Linked DNA regions of Homo sapiens. The protein of the gene in region 1 purifies or fractionates together with the protein of each later gene. This does not show direct contact. Each region holds a gene or a part of one and is shown on either strand. Other genes may lie near its edges. The genes, in order: NIPBL and SMC1A.

Region 1 (16,685 bases):
AATGTTTTATTTCTGAAGGTGCTCCAACTTTAAAGAAAAAAAATCCAGGAATCAATGTCTCTACATGTATCATCCTCCAAAAGTGAACGCTGTTTCATTTTGAACAGAATTGTCTATTCCACAGGTTTCACACATTTTCTGAATTAACCACATCCTTTCTTCCATTTCATGAAGCTCTTTATAAATGGACTCCGCCAGGTTGCTTGATTACAAAGATAAGAAATAAAGGGGCCAGGCGTAGTGGCTCACACCTGTAATCCCAGCACTTTGGGAGGCCGAGGTGGGTGGATCACGAGGTCAGGAGATCGAGACCATCCTGGCTAACACAGTGAAACCCCGTCTCTACTAAAAATACAAAAATTAGCCAGGCATGGTGGCGGGTGCCTGTAGTCCCAGCTACTCGGGAGGCTGAGGCAGGAGAATGGCATGAGCCCGGAAGGCGGAGTCTGCAGTGAGCCAAGATCACGCCACTGCACTCCAGCCTGGGCAACACAGCGAGACTCCATCTCAATAAATAAATAAATAAATAAATAAATAAATAAATAAATAAATAAATAAAATGCATGACTTTCCCATATTCAGGCCTGAGATCTTCAATATGACATCAAGGATCTGGATAACTCAGCCATTTGGAGGCTGAGATGGGAGGATCATTTCAGCTCAGGAGTTCCAGGTTGCAGTGAGCTATATTAGCACCACCGTACTTCAGCCTGGGTAAGAGAATGAGACCCTGTCTTTAAAAAAACAAAAGGATCCTGATCTGGATAACTAACTCAGTTTAACAGAAATGAATAAACAGCAAGTACTTAAAATTATCTGTATGACATAATTGGTTATGTTATTTCCCCTGAATTAGTTAATAATCCATTAAATGCAAACATAAAGTCTTGCTATCTCTTAGTATATGATGATGTATTTTAGGGATTGATGATTTTAGGGATTATTGTTGCTTGCCAAGTTATTTGTTCCTAAAACTTCAGATTACTAGTGCTTTATGATTATCTCTCACCTAATTTCTTTTGTCCTAACTACTTTATTCTTTAAATCAGCATGTCTGAATTCCCATAAAACTTTATGTTACTGGCTTGATGAATAATGTCATTTAGTCACAATTTTGTGAGATATCAAATTTTCAGCTTCTGTACATATATTCCATTAGATACAGTGCACTCTATACTCTGGCTTTAATATGGCTAAAGAATACATTTACTCCTAGATATGCTACATTTAAGCAATCTTTGATTTCCATTATAAATCACTCAAATTAGCACTTGCCAGATTATTAAAACCAGAAATCATCAAAAAACTTAAAAGAATCATTGATTTGATAACTAACAATGTGTTCTGTTTTCTTTTTAAAACAGGAAAACAACTCTGAGATAGAAATAAATCACGTAAACTAATAAAATCTTTGGGACTGAAGTGAAGCTTTGGTCAATGGAAACAAGTCACGTTCAGAAACAAAACTAAGAGCCTCACATAAACCTCCAAATTTTATAAATCCTAAAAAAAAAAAAAAAAAAACTTGGGCAGGCATAATGGAATAGTTCAGTGACAATTCTTCCACTAACCTACCCATATAACACAGAAGCACCAAATGGATCTTCAACTTCAATTAGAGGTAAGTGGGGGCAAAAAAAAATTTTCAATACTGCATGTAAATGACAATTTACTACTCATTATGTAAGTAACAACTTACTACTCATTACAGAAAAGTAGGGGGCAGGGATCAAATGATTCTTTCCTTGATATGTATACACGGTGAGAAAAATAAATTGTGGCAGTAATATCTTTAAATCTACACTGAATATAAAGTACAGATACATAAAAAGATTTATTTTAAAAAATTACTTTCTTCATTAGATAAATTCAATTCAATTAGAAATTGAATGACTGTACTTTCCTTTATATAAAAAAATCAGACATACTTTAGCTTTTACTATAACAACATTCATTTTTGTCTTTATAACTGTATAAAGTAGGAGGGAAATTGGTTTCTTTATTTTAAAAGCGAATGAACCAAGCTTTGAAAGGTTAAGGCTTATTCAGGGTTTTGATATTAGTTCTCTTTGTACTATAATTTGTAATAAGTTTAAAAGAGAATTTTTAAAAATTGATACATTACAGCCAGAAAACGCTAATATTTTTATAGGCAAGACAGAGAGATCCATATTAAAAAACCCATTTTATTGGTGGTGTAATACTAGTAGGTATTCATACTCTTAATTTCACATCAGGCCCTTGTAAAGAAGGGTTTCATTAAATTTTTTTTTTTTAGAATATAAAAGGGAATTTAGCATGTCAAAGATTATTTCTTCATAAATAGGCACAGGGTCTTACAGAATTAATATTTGCTAGCTCCTTAGCTGTTAAATCATATACCTATTTCTACAGACACAAGAACCCTATAGAAACTATGTCTTTGGGCTGGCTTAAGAGACAGAATGGAAAGGAGAGAGAATACCTCCAGCAAACTTTAGTTTTTATAAAAAGGTTTCTACTTAATGCATTTCTTTTAAGCAATATTTGTATGAACAATCTATTAAGCATACTTTGGAAAATTTCTACAAATGGAAATCATGAGTACAAATTTTCAAAATACTGCTCTAAAGTCACAAGAGCTAGATACAGATTATGCCAACTTCTGTAATAAACTTTCTCCAAACATTTCCTAAAGATATCACTGATATCAATCTTTACAGAAACTGAAAATTTGAGTTTTTAAGAAAGGTATTTTATAAAACTGTACAAATGAAACAAAATAAATTTCCACTGCATCATTAAATATTATTCAATATTACAATCTACTTTAAAGAAAACACCGAAAATTCCTCATTTAGGAATTAATAAACTGTGCTATAAATTCACTCTCAGAAACAATACTTTCAGACTTGCAGAAGCTGAGGATCCTAAACACCATCTAACTAGACTGGTTCAGTGCTAAGTAAAAGGCAACCAGCTGATGATAGTTATCAGCATTTAGTAGTGTAACTGTAACAGTAGATAACTGAAGTGCGATCACTGTCGCTAGTAAGGCCTGCAATCATTAGCTCATCAAGTGAGCAATATAGGCTAATCGCTATTGACTATTAAAGCTGCTAGATACATTCCCAGTGAAGACTACTTTCAGAAACTGCTTTACTCTTCAGTTTAAAGGATGATGTCAAATAACAAATAATACGGATATTTCTTGAAAGCACTGAGTCCACACAATGGAGAATGATATACTAGTTGGAAAGAAGTAGGGGGAGAGAGAAGAAAAAATGGTTTCCTTAGACATAAAGCAAAGATATTTTGAGACACTCTGGAGTTAAAAAAAAAAACAACAAAATCAAATATGTTTGTAATTACTGATAATAAGCTGTTAATAACACTGAAGGCATGTGTTAGTTGATGATTATGCCAATTTTTTTTTTTTTTTTTTTTTTTTGGAGACAGAGTCTCGCTCTGTCACCCAGGCTGGAGTGCAGTGGCACAATCTCAGCTCACTGTAATCTCCTCCTCCTGGGTTCAAGCGATTCTCCTGCTTCAGCCTCCTGAGTAGCTGGGGCTACCAAGTGCCTGCCACAGTGCCTAACTAATTTTTGTATTTTTAGTAGAGGTGGGGTTTCACCATGTTGGCCAGGCTGGTCTCTAACTCTTGACCTCAAATGATCCACCCACCTTGGCCTCCCAAAATGCTGGGAGATTATGCCAATCTTAAAGGATCTCATAACTTTATTATTTTAATTTAGAGACACTATACATTAGGGTAATAGTCTAATAAAATTTTTAACAACATATTTTTTGGCATGTAACATACTGATTGAAGTATATTTTAGTAGAAGATATTTGAAGAACTTAAAAAGAATTCTACAAACAGTTACACTGCCTGACTGCCCCCTCCACCCCTCCCAGGCAAGGAATAAACATGGTGATGGAAAGATAGGGAAGTTAACAATGCAGGATAAGAATGGGAATAATATTAATCCCAGTATAGATCAAAATAAGTGTGACAGAAAAATTAAACACATATTACTATAAGCAGGTTTTCTTTGGATCTTAACAAAAAAACTAGGTAGTTGACAGGGTGAAGAGTTATTAACAATGTTTAGGAAGCAGGATTTGAAAAATAAGTAGCTCTTGAGCTAGGGTGTATTGATGGGAACATAAAAGACGATTATCTAATTTTAATCTGTACACAAAAGCTTTTCCTGAAAATGGTGGCAACATCATCTCCATTCAATAGGCATTAAATATGATTTATTATGTATGAAGTATTTTGTTAGGTACTAGGGATACAGATATAGTGCCACAGAAATCAAATCAAATGTAACAATGCCACTTTACATTTATCATGCTCATACAAAAGACAAAAATAAGTAATCTAAATTAGGAGTAATAAATCTATACCTCTATCACACAATCAAAATTTATCAGCTTAAAATATATCCTAAAGAATGAATATTTTCTATATGAACATCAGGTAAAATATTTAAAAGATGGAAATTTATGGCTCTTCAATTTTGGCCCTAGGAACCAACCATACAAGTATCCCAGCAGTATTCAGACTAACTCCTTTACTCAGAAAATCATCAACACATCAAAATGTGATTTTCTGTGAATCTCCAAAGAAAATCCCAGTATATACTACAAAGGGTCAGTAATCTACAACTGTGCTTCATATACATGCAATTTTAAAAAATCCACAATTACCCAACTCTGCTATTTAAACTGAGTAGCAAAAATCTAAAACAAAACCAAAATTGGATCATTACTAAAAAAAAAAGATATGGATCCTAAGACATAAATAAATTAATCCAAAAGATAGCTACACGGCATCCTGAAATGCATCTAAGCACTGACATAGTATTTTTTGATGAAAAGGACTGTTACTGTAATTGCAGTTACATTAATATATGTGTATATATACACAAACATGCACATGTACACATACACACACATCACTCTAATAGGCAGACACCCAGATAGCTTACTTACATACTAACATGACCATATCAGGTATATACATCTGCATTAAAAGTATACTATCAGAAACGCATTTTGGTGCTAAAAACATATTCATAGGCAATATTATTGCATGTGAAAAACCCAGGTGAAATAATATACCAATTACTAACTAAAAGCTATATTCACTTCTGGATGTTCTTTAAGGAGTTTTAAAAGACTCTTTGTTAGAACAGAGTTTAGAAAGCAAGGCTAGGGTAAGCTGAGAGGGGAGGGAGAGAAAGATGGTCCAGATCAAAGGAACAAGAGGGTACCACTTTCCATCTTTCACCTGACTCTTCTAAAATTGTATAGCCATACTCTTTAGTTTATAAATATAAGCTACTCCCAAACTTTCACTAAAAAATTTTAAAGAAAATTTTTACCTAAAAGAAAACAATTGTGGTGTTAACCCCCACATTCTACAACCTCTTTTATATTAACAAGTAACTCTGAAAAGATGCATTCAAGTTAAATAAAAAAGCCTACTTATTAATTAAGGCTGATGTCTTAACTGACTTTTGGTAAGTCTAATTGCCATAATTTAAAATTTAAAAGCTTCACTCAAAGAACACAAATATTAGCGACTCAGAAGGCAATCTTTTTTCATTATTGTAAGACAAAAGGAAATAAATTAACAGTGAAAAAATGAATGTTGACGAAGACCAAGCAAGAATAACAACAGATTAGCCACAAGTCATTCTTTGAATAAAGAGTTCTTTATAATATGTTTTCAAAGAGCTTTCTTGGTAGACAAGCTACAACAGCATGTTATGAAAAACAATAACCACACACTTTTTGTATCTCCTAATACACTGCAGTGCTATACAACTTTGTGATGATGCAAATGTTCTGTTTTGTCCAATATGGTAGCCAACAGCCACATGTGACTACTAATGAAATGAACTTCCAATTTTAGTTAACTTAAATTTAAATAGCCAAAAAAGGCAATGGTTACCCTCTTGGCCAATGCAATTCCAGATTTCATATACTTGGTTATATATAAGTATAAATCTAAATTCTTAATAATTCTCTTTCACAGAAGGAAAACTTAAATAAACTCTCAGTTCTATTGCCTTCACTACACCTCAGTATATTTAGACTGTATGGACACGGTGGCTCACGCCTGTAATCCCAGCACTTTGGGAGGCTGAGAGGAGAGGATCACTTGAGGCCAGGAGTTCGAAACCAGCCTGGTCAACAAAGCAAGACCCCATCTCTATTTAAAAATAAAAAAAGTTATTTTAAATACTTGTGTACAAAGGGATACAGAAGTATATCTTCTGCACAAATGGCCATTATCTTTTGGCACTTAAGACATTCTTCTCCCTTTGGAAATAATTTTACTCAAGTAACCAGAGAATTCAGAAACCATGCAAAAATAACACCAGTCCCCCGCCTCCCACAAACTTACAATTTAACCAAATTTAAAAAGTAAGTACCATTCCCTATTACCTTTGCATAAACAAGGACAAAAAGATATGTTTTAAAAATATAAAACATATTTAACTAACCATCTCCCCAACAAAATGAAAAATAACCTTTTATATAACTTTCTAAACTATACAAATTATTCATCAATAATTGGCTCAGACACAGGTCTGTAAGAATGTAGTATTGTAAGACATTTTTAAATAGAGAGTTTTTAAAGACAGCTATTTTAATACAACATTCACTTAAGCATATTTCAGAAATATAAGAAATAACTAAACAGCAAAATAACTTATCTCTGTGTAACCAAATAGCAGTAACATTCATAACTACCTTGAGTAGTGGGTGGGAAGAAAAAAACTGTGGGGAAAAAAAAATTCACTGGAAACTTTTTATCTATACTCCTGAAAAAAATTTCCTGTTGTTTGACATAAATGTTATATTTTCATGTAGTAGCTTTCTAATTTTTGTAAATTTCCTTTTTAAAACTTAGTAATCTTAACACTTAAAATCGATTATATTATAAATGACATCAGTAGAAGTATTCTTACCTTTATTTGACTTTGATGGTTTATTCTTGATAGGTTTAAGGGAACTTCTTGATTTGTCCTCTCTATCTTTAATAAGTTTCTGAACATCATCCAAAGACAGTTTTTGTAGCACAACTACAGGCTTAGCTCCTTTATTTAGATCTTCAACTAATCCTATTTTTTCTACTTTGTCTTTCGGCTCTCCTTTCATTTCCATTTTCTTTGTCTCCTGAGTAACATTGCCATCTTTATCCCTCTTGATTTTCGGAATGACAAAATTTTTCAACGCACCAGACCTGCCCCCCAACAAATAACTTGGAAATTCTGCCTTATTGTCAGGGTGTGCTTTATTAGTGTCTACTTTACTCTTGTTACCCTCTGTCCTTTTGTCATCTTTACTAGTTGGTGATTTAAAACCAAGTTTATCAGATCTTGATTTATTAGAATCTCCTTGTTTAACACGAGGACTGTCAGGTCTTGATTTTTGTTCCCCAGAAGATGGTCTTTCCCTTGAGTCCCCTGATTCATGCCTGTGTTTTCGTTCTAGTTTATCAGTTTTTGAACTATCAGATTTAATGCCATGTTCATTTCTACTAGAGGATCTCAATGTTTCTGGTCTTCGAACCCTAGACTGATCCCCTCGATGTCGCTCTGATTCACCCCTGTCATCTGATTTTTGTTTATTATCATGGTCACGTCTTAGTGACTCAGAAACAGATCGCCCATCAGGTCTCTGCTTTAAGGCTTCAGCTCGTTCTGATTTTAACCGAGGTGAGTCAGATTTAGTATCTTGTTTATGTTTAGACACTTCAGGTTTTTTCTCTGTAGATGGCTTTCCAGAATCCCTCCTATTGTCATGCCTGTGTTTTGGTGTTTCAGGTCGCCCTTCATTTTTTTGCTTTGGAGTTTCAGGGCGGCTCTCACCTTTTTGCTTTGGAGTTTCAGGCCTTCCATCACCCTTCTGTTTTGGGGTTTCAGGATGCCCATCACTCTTTTGTTTTGGAGTCTCAGGCCGGCTTTCACCCTTTTGCTTTGGGGTTTCAGGCCTTGATTTTGTTGTTTCTGATCTGCCATTATTTTGTTTGTTGTCATTTGGTTTTGTGTCAGACAGTCTATTTTCATTTTGTTTAGGCTCAACTATGGTGCTCTCGTTTTGTTTGCATTCAGTTGTTCTGCTCTCATTCTGTTTAAGTTCTTCTGTTTGGGTCTCAACTTTAGTTTCTAACTTATTTTCACTTGATTTTGTCTCCACCAATCGGTTTTCATTTGGTTTAGATTCTGCTAATCTACTTTCACTTTGTTTCATTTCACTCTTTGAAAGCTCAGGATCAGACTTTTTTTTAGGTGTCTCAGGATGGTTTTCTGGTGTAGATTTAAGACTTCCAACAATATCTTCCTGAAGAACAGAAACAGGTGCATCATTACATTGTTTGATTTCTTCAGGCTTTTTTATGGAGTCTGAATCCTGAGTTATAGAAGCCTGAGAGTCCACTCTTCCTGCCTGATGAAGATCAATGCTAACCATTAATGCTGGCCTTGACCCATTTCCCGTAGAACCCGTCTCCTGAGAAGCTGGTCTATTACCTCCTGTAGCACCCCCAGCCTCCTGTGGGTAAGAATCTTGTTTTCTTTTTTTCAAAGGCTTATCTGAAATTTAAAGATAAATATCAATATCAGTAATAGACATGTATTCTTATCTTATTAAAAACCCTATGGACGTTGTTTATCTTTTTAAGGTTATGTTTTTAAAATGGAGTAAAATGCAAATGCAAATATGTACACATAAAATAGTAAGCATGAATGACACAATACTTTGAAAGGTAAGGTTTGAAGAAATATGCTTGAGAGATCTCAATAAATATAGTAAAAAGAATTTAACTGCATACTCTTTAAGGATATAAATAAGTGTAAGAATATAAAATGAATAGAACTTATAATGTACCAAATACAAACATATATTTATGTTCATAGATGTCACGGATAAATCAGATTCTTTTCCTAATAATAAAGCAACCAGTTACAAATCATAAAGTCTCACTCAGGTTACTTTTAACTGTTAGCCAAAAACCATAAAGAGCTCCAAATCTGCCAATATACCAAACAGGAAATATAAGTTTTTACTGTATCTAAGATAAGTATGGAAAAAAAAGAAAGAAAATATATACCATGCCATTGGGAAAAAATGAATTTAAAAAAAGAATTTAATAATTTGTCATTTAACTTTAATCAATAATTCAAATTCTTTGAAGTGTTAAAAGTGTGAAAGGAGTTTAAAAGTTAACCACAATGTTAGATAGAAGTAAATTTAAAATAAGGAAGCAACAGATTTCATAGGTATAGAAAATTTAAAATCAGGGAGCAATAGGTATAAATTAGAATCCTGTCTTAAGCAACTTCCACTGAAGGAAACAGTTCCTACTCTTCGATATAAAGTTATAATGTTCTGGGATCCATTCTGGTCTCAGAAAGAAATAATTTACAGTATTATGAAATGTAAAGACAAACACACACACAAACACAAATTCACCATTACAATAAAATGTGAAGGTATTTTTAACATCTATATATTTCTGTGTATGATTCCATTTCTGACTTAAGAGGGAGCTAGTCATTTTCTATAAATTAAATCTCCAGTTAGGTCTTGGGAATGGTTACATTATAGCACCTTGAGGTTTGGCTTCCTTTTGTTTATTTGCTGAATTGCTTGAGTATGTTTTAAAAGTCACTGTTATTTATTTTAACAAGGCAATCTCTAGATTCTCTTGCAATATTCACTAATGTGATATATCATATAAGGAAGATGGTATCACAAGGTTAAAAGTCAAACTGACAACTGAAAAATGGCTCCTTATTGTTAGAGAACCAAGTTGTGATTTTTTTTTCCTAATGGTAATGCTTCTTCTATATAGCAAAGTTCCACTGTTTTCTTTTTAAAGTGGGAAGTAGCAGTTCTTGCCAGTTTAAAATCTAATCAAATATAACCGCAATTTACTTAAGATATTTGTTAGTTATATTTTGTAAAACTAAGTCCTTCTGCTCCTTCAGTTGTCCAGTCAAATCTATCACCACACATGCTCCATTTGCAAAACACTACCATTTTAATTCTAAAGTATAATATATTATCATTAGATTGTTTCCACCAGTTAAAACTAACATGGTAAGAATTTATAGGAAGTTTTCTACATCAATACCTTAAAAAAGAAATCAGAATACTAAATTTATGTTTATAGAATCCTCTTTTAGAATGTTCTGCCATTCAAAAATCATCTTTATGTTCTGCCACAGGGCAAACCAATTGATATCTCATGAATAAGATGCTTTATCAATTTATGCTTATCCCTTAAACTTTTATAAGACTCTAGAAATTCAAAAAATATAACCTAAGATTTCTATATTTTTGAGGAAATATGCTTTGTAAAAATAATTAAAATGGTAGACTAATCAATCATACTTAAGATACACAACGACATAGGTCTCAGGCATCTGAAGATTTAAGATATCTATGGCTGACTCTTTTATGCACAGTCTTCAGAAAAACATTAACATAGCTTAGAGGGCTGATTTTTAAAGGATTACAAAATACTCAAGAGTTTATATATTATTAACCTCAATCCAATTTACGTAAAGACATTAAAATGAAAATTTAGCAAATACAGTAAGTTAATTTCAAAGAAATGATATATTTTATTTAAACTATGAATCCTATGATTATTTATAATAAAAAATGTATGAAAGTATTTGCACACAAGTAATTAAGATTGGGAAACATCTTACCATTGTTTTTCAGTATATACAAAATGCTGTTAAATACAAAATTTTAATCGTTCAACTACTGAAAAGTACTTTACTCCTGTAAAACCTGGAAAATTTTCATTACTGTGACAAGGATTCTTAGGTATGTCAAGAGCATGTATGTTCTGATTCACTTGGTCTGATTCAATTCCACCATGAACTTACTCCTTATAAAGCAGCTCTGAATCTGTACAGGTCACTTTTGTCCACCCACTTTTGTTATGAGTCTTCATTACATCATAACCACCTAATAATCATGGAAAGCCATCTCTATGAAGAATCATTTTGGTATTTAGGACAGTGATTACCTGTAAGCCCTCTTCAGCACTGGGAACCATAAGATTAGCTATCAGAATACATATATTCCTAAAGAAAATGCATACAAAAGGATTATCATAATCTCAAAACCAACACTTGTCATCCAGATGCTGATATTCTCAAAATAAGATGCAGCCCTTACAGAAATTCTAAACTCAATTACGCTTACAAGAAAAACAAACTATACCACTTACTTAAATCTACAAGTGATAAATGAAAACACTTAAAGCAGAAAGCACAATAATTGTGTATACATGGTAGCCAATTATGTAAAATGAAAACACACCACCCCTCAACCACAATACAGGCTGAGTGGCTAATTGTCCTATTCCTTGTACCAAAATCCCGGTCTCTTATTCCAAATGACAGTAGGTAATCATTGACTTTTAACAAGGGCTATAGTGCAAGAATATTGTAACATTATAAAAACATTAGTGAAGCTGAGCCATTCCTTATACTTGCTAACATGGAAAGTGGACCTTGGGAAAAGATGAAATAGGCAAAGATGAACAAAGGAACCCCCTCTTTGACAAAAGAAAGCAGAAATTTTCAGCACATGAAAAAGGTATTAATATCTAATGACAGGTCATCCCAGAAGCAAAGAAAGATGAATAGCCTTTTAAAATTAATTTATGTAATTAGAGACACTAAAAGTATGAGCAAAAAGATTGAGAAAAGGGTCCTTTTGGAATATTATAAAATATTAGGTTACAAAGTTGCCTTATCAACGTATATACAGAACTGCTCAAAGAAGAGAGAACAGGACAAAGGGACATAAATACCTAGCGGCTAGAAAAATGTCTTTCTTCTGCGGAACAAGGGTACAATAGGGTCTACCACAGCCTAGGTAAAACATTTCTTAAGATTATTCTATCCCTTTACTTGAATTCCACAAATATTCTACATTTGTTGAACTTTCTAATCTTACTTATAAGGTACAGTGTTTTTGATTTCTGGTTATTGAGTGGAATATTTCTCTCACAGTAAACGAATATATTGGCAAACAAACTCATATCCTAAAGTGCAACTAGTAGGCCAGACAAATAGTCCTGCCTGCTCCATATCACCAGTAGTAATACAACAGTTGTAAAAAAGTCCTCAGTGCCAAATGTTTGAATATATTAAATGTCCACTTTAACATTTAGTCTTTAATAAGTAAAAATAATGGTAACTGGGACAAATTAATTTCAAGGAAGTATTTCATCTCTTAAGGGCTCTAAAACCACCACTTCAGAAGAATTTTGCTTTTATTTATGACCTCACCTACACCCTTGGACCAATATACACACCTTTAATCATCTCAAAATCTCAAGGTAACTTCTTATATAACAAATACCATCCCATCACACAATGCAGAAACTGAATGCAATATGCCAAGTTCAAATCAAAAGGGTTAGGTGGCATCTAAGTTCCAAAAGTTTTCAAATGCGGTCATGTATTTCATGTATTGCTTAACAACAGGATACATTCTGCGAAATGCATTGTTAGGAGGTGTCTCTGTTACGTGAACATCATATAGTATATTCACATAAACCTAGATGATATAGCCTACTATGTACCTAGGCTATATGGTATAGCTTATTGCTCCCAGGCTATAAACCTGTACAGCATGTTACTATACTGAATACTGTAGGCAACTGTAACACAATGGTAAGCATCTGTGTATCTAAAACATATCTAAACATAAAAAAGGTAGAGTAAATATACAATATTATATTTTTATGGGACCACCATTGTATATAAAGTCTGGTGTGAAATGAAACATCATTATGTGATACGTGACTATAAATCCACGAAATAAGAGGAAAGTGGCTTTCAGGAAACAAGTTAGAAATGACAACAATAATATGAAATCAGCAAAACCTACTTTAATCCTCAGGTTATCACCGCATACCTGTATTTTCACCAAAATTGAATGTCAACTCTGCTCATTCAACTTTTCAGTTATCTGTTAACTATGCCATCACAGATTACAGAAAAAACTATTTAGATAATTGAAAATAAAATATACAAGTTTCTACAAGAACAGTATGTTGTATCTGTTGACTTTGTTCTATTTTTCCAAAGGAAAGTTCGCAGTATAAAATAAGTTTGCTAATATGCAATTAGAACTATATATGACCCTTATTTTAATTCCATTTTTATAAGTAGAAACTTTGGATTCAACAAACATGATACATAAAAAAAAGGTCACCATTCCTCCTCTGTTTTTGTTACTATCAACATCTATTAAAATTCACTTAAAAAGTACATTCTTTTTCAAGAACACATTTTTCCATAATACAGATTTAACGTCATGCAAAAAATTCAGTTATCAGGGCAACTAATATTTCTTGGTCAGGGAATTGTGATATTGTATGTTTCCTGCAAAACTGGCTATCCTAAGATTCAGGAATTTTGAACAGGTTAATAAGAAAAGCTGAGTAATATTACTTTTTTCATTTGATATGCGTATACTTTTATAACAGGTTAGAGGAAGAGATATAATTTGGAACCTATATATTTATTTCCTGAACCTCATACTGCAAACTAAAGAGAAGAGGTACAAGCAACATTTCACCCTTAATATCAAAACTTTACCAGTTTAAAAAAAAATTCCAGAAGTCCTACCCAGAGCAATCAGGCAGGACAAAGGAATATTAGGCATCCAAATAGGAAAAGAGGAAGTCAAATTATCTCTGTTCACTGATGACATGATCCCATACTTAGAAAACCCTAAAAATTCCTCCAAAAGATTCATAGACCTGATAACTTCAATAAAGCTTTAGGATACAAAATAATTGTACCAAAATCAGTAGCATGTCTATACACCAATAACGTTCGAGCTGAGAACCAAATCAAGAACTCAATCTCATTTACAATAGCCACACACACAAAATAAAATACCTAGGAATACATTTAAACAAGGAGTTGCAAGAGCTTTACAAGGACAACTACAAAACACTGATAAAATAAATCATAGATAACACAAACAAATCAAAAACATTCCATGGTCATGGATAGGAAGAATCAATATTGTTAAAACTGACTATACTGCCCAAAGTAATCTACAGATTCAACACTATTCCTATCAAACTACCAACGTAATTTTTCAAAGAACTGGAAAAACTATCCTAAAATTTATATAAAACCAACAAAGAACCTGAATAGCCAAAGCAATCCTCAGCAAAAAGAATAAAGCTGGTGGCATCATATTAGGAAACTTCAAACTACACTGCAAGACTAGAGTAAGCAAAACAGCATGGTACTGGTATAAAAATAGGCACACAGATCAATGGAACAGGATAGAGAACCCAGAAATAAAGCCACATACCTAAAAACAACTGATCTCCAACAAAGTTGACAAAAATAAACAATGGAAAAAGTACACGCTATTCAATAAATGGTGCTGGGAAAACTGGCTAGCCATAAGCAGAAGAACGAGACGGGACTCCTGCCTCTCACCTATACAAAAATTAACTCAAGATGAATTAAATATGTAACTGTAAGACCTCAAACAATAAAAATCCTAGAAGAAAACCTGCAAAAAACTCTTTTGGGACATTGTCCTAATTAAAGAATTTATGACTAAGACCTAAAAAGCAAAAACAACACAAAGAAAAATTGACAAATGGGACTTAATTAAACTAAAGAGTTTCTGTACAGCAAAAGAAACCATAGCAGAGTAAACAGACAACCTAGAGAATGAGAGAAAGTATTTACAAACTATGCATCCAACAAAGGTCTAATACTGAGAATCTATAAAGAACTCAAATCAACAAGAAAAAAACAACCCACTAAAAAGTGGGCAAAAGACATGAACAGACACTTCTCAAAAGAAGATGTACACACAGCCAACAAACATTTTAAAAAATGCTCAATATCATTAATCATCAGAGAAATGCAAATTAAACCACAATGAGATACAATCTTACACCAGTCAGAATGGCTATTACTAAAAAGTCAAAAAATAACAGAGGCTGCAGAGAAAAGGGAACACTTACACACTGTTGGTGGGAATGTAAATTAGTTCAACCCTTATGAAAAACAGTATGGAGATTTCTCAAAGAACAAAAAATAGAACTACCATTTGACCTAGTAATCCCACTACTGGGTTTCTATCCATAGGGAAAAAAATTACTTTATAAAAAAGACACCTGCACTCATATGTTTATCACAGCACTATTTACAATAGCAAAGTTACAGAATCAACCTAAGCGTCCATCAGGAGTGGACTGGATAAACAAAATGTGGTATATATACACCGTGGTACACAATCATAAAGAAGAATGAAATCATGTCCTCTGCAGCAACATGGATGCAGTTTGAGGCCATTATCTACCCTAAGTGAAATAATGCAGAAACAGAAAATGAAACACTACAGGTTCTCACTTATAAGTGGGAATTCAACAATGGGTACACACGGACATAAAGTTAGAAACAACAGACACAGGGGACTCAAAAAGGGGGAAAAAGGGACGAAGCCAAGGTTGAAAAACTATCTAATGGGTACTATGATCACTATTTGGGTGACGGGTTCACTACAAGCCCAAATCTCACCACCACACAATATACCCACGTAACAAACCCCTGTACATATATCCCCTGAATCTATATTAAAAAAAAAAAAAGACAAAGAAAAAAAAACCCAGCTCCCTAGCCAGTAAAATGAAGACTTCTAGCAATCTCTTTATTTGCATCTATTTCTGATTTACATATGTTGCAAACATTGTAGTACAACAATTACTAAATACAGTCCATTTTTTTTCAATAACATTAAAATGAGCCATCATGACAGACAGGAAATATAATACTAATCTTCAGCATGTTTCTTAGCATAGAAACACAATTATCTTGTCATGATCCTGTCAAACACTGAACACATCATATATAAAAATCAGCTCTACCCAATATCAAGAAGTTTTATCATTACCAAGAAATAAAATATAAGAACTGAAAATCAACCTAAAATATTTTAATCATAAAATTAAATCATAAAGCATGCTTTTGGTCTGATCAAATGTGTATATGCATTTATATAGCAATCAAATTCATCAATTATATTGCTAATTTGAATCACTGATTCATCAGTCTCTTAAAACATGAAAGAAATTTTGTATACAGTGTATACCAAATTACTAAGAACTTACTATGAATTTATTTTTGTTTGATTATGAAGCGCAAGGAAAGCTCATAAACTCATAGACCAGGTATGTCTTGAAACTCCATCCTAACATACTAGTCAGACAAAAGGGAACACTTCACTGTAATTACCACCAAAAGACTCTTAATTTCTAAGGTTTGCTATTTAATATTAACTCTTTCCATGATTTGTTTACTAAAAAAATTTGACATTATTAAGCCAGTAGGATCATAAACCAAGTGAAATATCTAACTGCCTAATAAGCATACACATGAGCTTTTCTTAAGTGTACCTGTTCAAAATAATTCTACAGTGGTTAACCTTGTTTTAGCAGAAAAAAATTTGAAGGTGCACAACAATATTAATGTAACTTGTGAAATATACATGTTATATAGAAATGCTAATGTTCATTTTAGCAGAAAAGCACAAATAAGTAAAATCATATAGTACATAATGAGTAACAGACCTGTAGTAGAGAATTACCAAATCTCATATAGTTGTTTCAG
Region 2 (7,122 bases), on another chromosome or scaffold:
CTCATCTGTAGGCTTCACCTGTGGGGAGAAGCTCAGTCAGTGGCAGAACACAAACAGGGAGTACTAGAGGAGGGGCCCTTGAACACTGGCCTGACCCAATCCCCAACAAGCCTCACCTCCAGGTAGTCAAGAGGCAAGAAGGTCTCAGGCTCCCCACGCTGCTCCTTGATATACTGAATACAGTCCCGGCCTGTCTTCTCCGAGTCCACAATAATGGCATCCATGTTCTTGCCCAAAACCTTGGTTACAGCAATCTGATACTTCTTTTGTGTGGGCTGGCATAGGTCAATGAGGCGGCCGTACTGAGTAAAGTAGGAAGGGAAAACTGAAGTATGAAGCTTTTGGAAGCTGGCTCAGGAATCCTAATTCCCAGTATGGAAAGGGGGACAGACTAGAATCTATATCAGGAAGTGAATGCAACTGTATTGCCTAGTGGTTAAGATAACCCAATACCAAGCATGGTAGTGTGTGTTTGTAATCCTAGCTACTTGGGAGGTTGCAATGGGAGGACAGCTTAAGCCCAGGAGTTCAAGACCAGCCTGGGCAACATAATGAGACCCTGTCTCAAAACAAACAAAAAAGACAGCCCACTAGTTCTGTACCCATGCAACCCTACCCTATCTGAATGAGACTGTATGGACTGAGGAGGAGGCAATTGCAGACTAGCTTGCTGTGTGCACTCCAGATCAGCACAGTGGCCAATCCTAACGTCCCTTTGAAAGGTGGAAAAGTTTGGGTAAGAGAAGGGAGGTAAAGAAATGAATAAATGAGTTATGTAATGAGGGAAACTCAGTATTACATTAACACCTCAAAAGAGGTTCAGAGCAAGAGATGATATTGTCTCTTAGCACAATTATCCCAGATGCCTGAAAGTATGAAGCTATGTTTGCCGAGAACACTCCTGGTTTTGGAACCTAACAAGATTGAATAGAAGCCTGCAAACCTGAATGGCCTCACCCTAGGAGACATTTTTACATGACATGATCATGGACTAGACTAATTATTAATTAATGACTCAGTGGGATTCTAGTAATGTGCCAGTATCTTTCTACTCTTTTTTGGAGACGGAGTCTCACTCTGTTGCCCACGCTGAAGTGCAGTGGCGCAATCTTGGCTCACTGCAACCTCCACCTCCCAGGTTCAAGTGATTCTCCTGCCTTAGCCTCCCGAGTAGCTGGGATTACAGGTGCCCGCCACCATGCCCGGCTAATTTTTGTATTTTTAGTAGAGACGGGGTTTCACCATGTTGGCCAGGCTGATCTCAAACCCCTGACCTCCGATGATCTGCCCGCCTCGGCCTCCCAAAGTGCGAGGATTACAGGCGTGAGCTACCGCTCCCAGCATCTTTCTATTTATTACATGATTGTTCTGATGTAAGGGATCTGTGTTTGAAGATCAAAGTGGACTGTGGTTTTATGAAATATATATTTAGTCTTCTACCCGTGAGTTCCTGACACACAACTCCTAAAACCCTTAGAATCTCAGGAATGAGCAGTGTCTTTTGTATGTTAATGAGATGATTATGGCTGGAGGCCCATAGATAGCTTCTGGATAGGGGCTGGTTACCAGAAAGACCAAGGCAGGATTAGATTTGGGACTCTTAGCTCCACCCCTACAACCTTCAGGAGGGGAGAGGGGCTGAAGGTTGAACTGATCACCGATGGCTGATGATCTGATCAATCATGACTACATAATGAAGCCCCTGTGTGGGGGTACCTGGAGGGTGGCTTGCCCAGATTGGGCATGGAAGCTTCACATCTCTTCTCCCATACCTTGCCTTATGCATCCATCTGGCTGTTCTCTGTATCCTTTGTAATATCCTTCATAATAAATGGGTAAACATAAGTAAAACATTTTCCTGAGTTCTGTGAGCTGCACTAGTAAATTAATCGAACCCAGGGAGGGATTCTCGGGAACTGTAATTTATAGCAGGTCAGTCAGAACCACAAGTCACAACCTGAGACTTGCAATTGGCACCTGAAGTCTTGGACTGAGCCCCTAACCCACAGGATCTGATGCTATCTCCAGATAAATAGTGTCAGAGCTGAAGTGAATTATAGGTCACCCAGCTGGTGTCTGCTGGAGAATTGCTTGGTGTGTGAGGAAAAACCCCCACACTTCTGGTGTCAGAAGTGAAGTGTTGTGCTGGTTGTGAGAGTAGAAAAAACACTTTGGTTTTTTCCTATCTCACAGAAGAACACAGCCCCCATGCTATCAAGGAAAAGCCTATTCTGGTTCCCAAGCAATGACTTCAGGCAGTCGTGTCTGAATCCAGAATCATCTTTCTAAACCTCACATCTACCATTTTACAGACCACCACCACCCAGGCACTATGCCAAGTATCTTATATATATTATTTCAAATTCTCACAAGCACTTAGCAAAATAAATCTGGCTGGGCGTGGTGACTCACGCCTGTAACCCTACCACTTTGGGAGGCCGAGGCGGGCAGATCACTTGAGGTCAGGAGTTTAAAACCAGCCTGGCCAACATGGTGAAACCCCGTCTCTACTAAAAATACAAAAAAATTAGTTGGGCATGGCGGCGAGCACCTGTAATCTCAGCTACTTGGGAGGCTGAGGCAGGAGAATCACTTGAGCCTAGGAGGCAGAGATTGCAGTGAGCCGAGGTTGTGCCACTGCACTCCAGCCTGGGCGACAGAGCGAGACTCCATCTCAAAATCAATCAATCAATCAATCAATCTCTTCTACCAGTTCCCTTCCTGCAGCCTCCAAAACCAAGCCTGGTTCCCTAAGAACTATCAGATTAAGGGGGCAGGGACTGACTCTAACCATACTTATCTCCCCAGCAGTGTCTAGAGAAGTGATAGGGAAATATTAGTGGAACCAAACTAAGTTGAACCCAGGTATGGGATAATATTCAGGGAACCTGGGAACTCAGGATTTGGTGAAAGAGGCCAAAAGATCAAGAGATCTGATAAAGCTCAGGGTGTCCCTAAAAGCTACTGGACCAGTTAATACATGCCAAGGGAGCCCCTTTATAAGACTGCACAGAGCTACTTCCTGGGAGAGTAATTCCAGCCCCATGGCCCCACCTGCTTCCAAAATCTTTCCTGGTTTTCCAATTCCCCTCCCAGAGGCATAGACATAGCAAGACAAAACCTTCAGAAAGACGCAATTGGTATGATGAAAAGAACATGATTGCCTAGTATGACAGGTTGAAAAATAAAAAAAAAAAAAAAAAAAAAAGAACATGAGCTCAGGAGAACAAGTTGGGTTTGAACTGCAGTTCTTCCTCTTAGAAGCGGTGCTTTTTTAAACCTCTCCGAGCCTCATTTCCCCCAACAATAAAAATGGGATTGGCAACCCTGTCCTTACAGGGCTGCTGGGAAAATCGTGTGACAGTGAGTGTAAGTGCTCAGGAAATGAGTTCCCTCTCTGCTCTTACCACAGAGCCAGGGTAAAGGCGCTTGATGCTTTCCATTATCTCTGCCTTTCGCTGCTGGCGGCTGCTCTCCTGGCGGTCGATGCGGGCATCCCCTAGCTGCTCCATCACCTGGTTCAGCTCCTTATTGATTTCATCAATACGCCGCTTGGCCATCTCCACCTCCTCTGTCAGCTCCCCCTCTAGCTTCTTCTGCTCTTCTAGGGACTGCCTACAAAGTGAGGGCACACAGGAGTTACTCCTGCTGGTGAGAAAATACTCCTGGCTCAGAGAGCTCTGGGGGTCCTGCATGAAGAGGGGCATGTAGGTAGGGTCACAAGAACAGGCCTGGAAGTAAGGGGGACAGATGCAGAGCTACATACTTGCTAGTGGTGATGTATTCCTCCAGTTTCTCAATCCGCTTCTGATTCTCTTCAATTTCCCGCAGCTTTTGCTTGATCTTGGCCTGGGAAACAAACATTCCATCATCAGGGGCTGCACGAGTTTACGCCAAGACCATGGGGGCTCTAGATCACACCCTTTATGTGCCCACTCATCCAAGAGCCGAACAGTCCAGGACAATCTGTCACTAATATAGGAGGCCTACTAAAAAGCAGACATAGATGGTGTTCGGTTTGATCTACTAACTAATGATGGGGGCCTCCCAGAGCTCCAGAACCTCTCATAGGTGTTCTACCCAGCCAAGGCATCTTCTTCACCAACCATGGAGGCTCAAATCAAGATAAAGCTTCACAGGCCTTTCTGTACCTGTTTCCTCATCTGCAAAATGTGGGTAATCTCCACTGCATAGAATACACATTAAGTGCTTAATATAGGGTTGTTATTAATATTAATGACTATCACATTATTTTTAAAAAATTTTTATTATTTTTTAAAATTTGAGACAGGGTCTCACTGTGTTGCTCAGGCTGATCTCAAACTCCTGGCCTCAAGTGATCCACCACGCCTGGCCAACATTCTTTTAAATATTTAAAAGTGCTTAGCAGAATGCCTGAACACTGTACACTCCTGGGACACTATGACAACTTTCTATCATTGCTGTTATTACAATATTGATATCAGGGAGGCAGTAAGTAAAGTATATTTGGTAAGAGTGTGGGCTTTAGAGCTACAATGCCCAGGGTCTGGTTCTGATACTTAATAGTTATGTGAGTGGCCGGGCACGGTGGCTCGCGCCTGTAATCCCAACACTTTGGGAGGCCAAGGCAGGCTGATCGCAGAGGCAGGCAGGAGTTTAAGACCAGCCTGGGCAACAAGCAGAAACCCTGACTCTATAAAAATTAAAAAATTAGGAGGCCGAGGCGGGCGGATCACTTGAGTTCGGAAGTTCAAGACCAGCCTGGTCAACATGGTGAAATCCCATCTCTACTAAAACTACAAAAAATTTAGCCAGGTGTGGTGGCACCCACCTGTCATCCCACCTACACGGGTGGCTGAGACACAAGAATCACTGGAACCGGGCTGGGTGCGTTGGCTCACACCTGTAATCCCAGCACTTTAGGAGGCCAAGGCGGGTGGATCACCTGAGGTCAGGAGTTCGAGACCAGCCTGACCAACAAGGTGAAACCCCGTCTCCACTAAAAATACAAAAATTAGCCGGGAATGGTGGCTGGTGCCTGTAATCTCAGCTACTTGGGGAGGCTGAGGCAGGAGAATTGCTTGAACTTGGGAGACAGAGGTTGTAGTGAGCCGAGATGGCACCATTGCACTCCAGCCTGGGCAACAAGAGAGAAACTGCGTCTCAAAAAACAATAAAAATAAAAATAAAAAAATAAAAAGAATCACTTGAACCCGACAGGCAGAGGTTGCAGTGAGCTGAGATCATGCCACTGCACTCCAGCCTGGGCAACAGAGTGAGGCTTTGTCTCAAAAAAAAAAAAAAAAAAAGTAGCCAGGCATGGTGGCAAGCACAAGTAATGCTGGATACTCAGGAGGCTCTGGTTGGAAGATTGCTTAAGCCTGGGAAGTCGAAGCTGCAGTGAGCCATGGTCGCACCACTGCACCTCAGCCTGCATGACAGAGAAAGACTCTGTCTCAAAAATAACAATAATCTTGTGACCTTAGGCAAATTACTCTGTGTTGTAATTTCCTCATTCATAAAATAGGGTAATAGTAGCCATTCCATAAAGATAATAATAAATGAAGAATTAAATGAGTGGATACATGTAAAGAACATTGCCTATCATACAGTAAGTGCTCAACAGATGTGAGCTACTGTCATTATCATTGTCATTATCATTAAGATTATCATGGCCAGGCGCAGTGGCTCAAGCCTGTAATCCCAGCACTTTGGGAGGCCGAAGTGGGTGGATCACAAGGTCAGGAGCTCGAGACCAGCCTGGCCAACGTAGTGAAACCCTGTCTCTACTAAAAATACAAAAATTAGTTGGACATGGTGGCGCACGCCTGTAGTCCCAGCTACTCAGGAGGCTGAGGCAGGAGAATTGCTTGAACCCGGGAGGCAAAGGTTGTGGTGAGCTGAGATCACATCACTGCACTCCAGCCTGGGCAAGAGCGAAACTCTGTCTCAAAAAAACAAAAAAACAAAAAAAAAGACTATCATTACAGGTTGGGTAACTCTAATCCAAAATGCTTAGGACCGGAAACGTTTCAGATTTTGGATTATTTTGGATTTGGGATGCTCAACCTATATATATCCTTTTCTGTGGACCATCATCCCTAATCTTATAACTATAGCCCACCTCTGTCTCTACTTTCTTCCGTTCTTCCAGATCCAGACGGTCCTGGTCAGCTTTCTGGTCTCGATTGAATTTCTCCAGCTCCTGGGCCAGGGTAGCTGCTCTCTTGCTGGCTTCTTCTTTCAACCGGTGGTATTTCTTCACCTGTGTTAGGGACAGGGAAGGAGAACAGGGATGACCAAGTCAGCAGATGTCAGCCCAGGGATCTCCTCCCTGCCAACCCCTTCCAGAGCTTACCTGATTCTCCTCCAACGTCAAATCTCTGCCCTGACTCTGACTCTCTTCTTCCATCCGTTCTTCAAACTCCTGCCGAGCCTTCTCCACTGACAGCATCTCCTTCTCCAGCTCATCCATGTCACCTTTACGCTTCTTGTAGTGCTTCTGAGCATTCTGCAGAGACTTCTTGGCTGCTTCCAGCTTCTTGATTTTGTGGGAGGTGTTCTCCTTGGCTTTGATGTACTGAGGCCGCTTCTGGTTCAATTCTGAGTCCTTCTCCCTTTTGCCAGAGGGGTGGGGGAAACCAGTGAGAACTATGGAAGAAGGGAGGGTTCCCAGGCTTTTCACCCAAAGGAGAGCTTGAGCCCCTGAGCCAACCTCAGGGAATTACTTAAAAGAACATGGGCGTAATGCCCCACAGATCCTGAAAAAAAGGGGCAGTCTGACTACTCCCTGAAAGGTATGACTTCAGCCTGGCATTCCAGCCACTCCATAAGGCAAAGCTACCAACTCTGCCTCAACCCTGGCCAGGAAGCTCATTAACAACTCCCAAGAACATCCTGTATTTACTTAGTTGGCCCCTCAAATTCCTATCCTTTAAACTTCTAGCTTCAGTTTCCTCTTCTAGGAAGGCCTTCTCAGCCACTCCATTGGCTCGGCCTCACATTGGTTCCTCTTTCTTGGCAAGGCCACCACCCCTTTTGAGTTCTCCCTCATCTGAGCACCTGTCTACCCAGGGCCTGAGTGCTTAAATATTCTATTTGTCTAAACTGCAAGTCAAGAAATGTGCCTGGTTCTTACAA

The links.
Region 2: the proteins of NIPBL (region 1) and SMC1A purify together in Homo sapiens (affinity purification with mass spectrometry; 3 studies listed by BioGRID and IntAct, with this or other methods). This does not show direct contact.

What each region holds. Positions count from the first base shown.
Region 1 is NC_000005.10:36,976,585-36,993,269, reverse strand, and holds part of NIPBL (nipped-B-like protein), read right to left. Parts: intron 8,595-16,685; coding exon 6,969-8,594; intron 1-6,968. UniProt on the Homo sapiens protein: Plays an important role in the loading of the cohesin complex on to DNA. Forms a heterodimeric complex (also known as cohesin loading complex) with MAU2/SCC4 which mediates the loading of the cohesin complex onto chromatin.
Region 2 is NC_000023.11:53,405,655-53,412,776, forward strand, and holds part of SMC1A (structural maintenance of chromosomes protein 1A), read right to left. Parts: intron 6,600-7,122; coding exon 6,341-6,599; intron 6,248-6,340; coding exon 6,107-6,247; intron 3,850-6,106; coding exon 3,767-3,849; intron 3,616-3,766; coding exon 3,408-3,615; intron 303-3,407; coding exon 117-302; intron 112-116; exon of another isoform or gene 19-111; coding exon 1-18. UniProt on the Homo sapiens protein: Involved in chromosome cohesion during cell cycle and in DNA repair. Central component of cohesin complex. The cohesin complex is required for the cohesion of sister chromatids after DNA replication.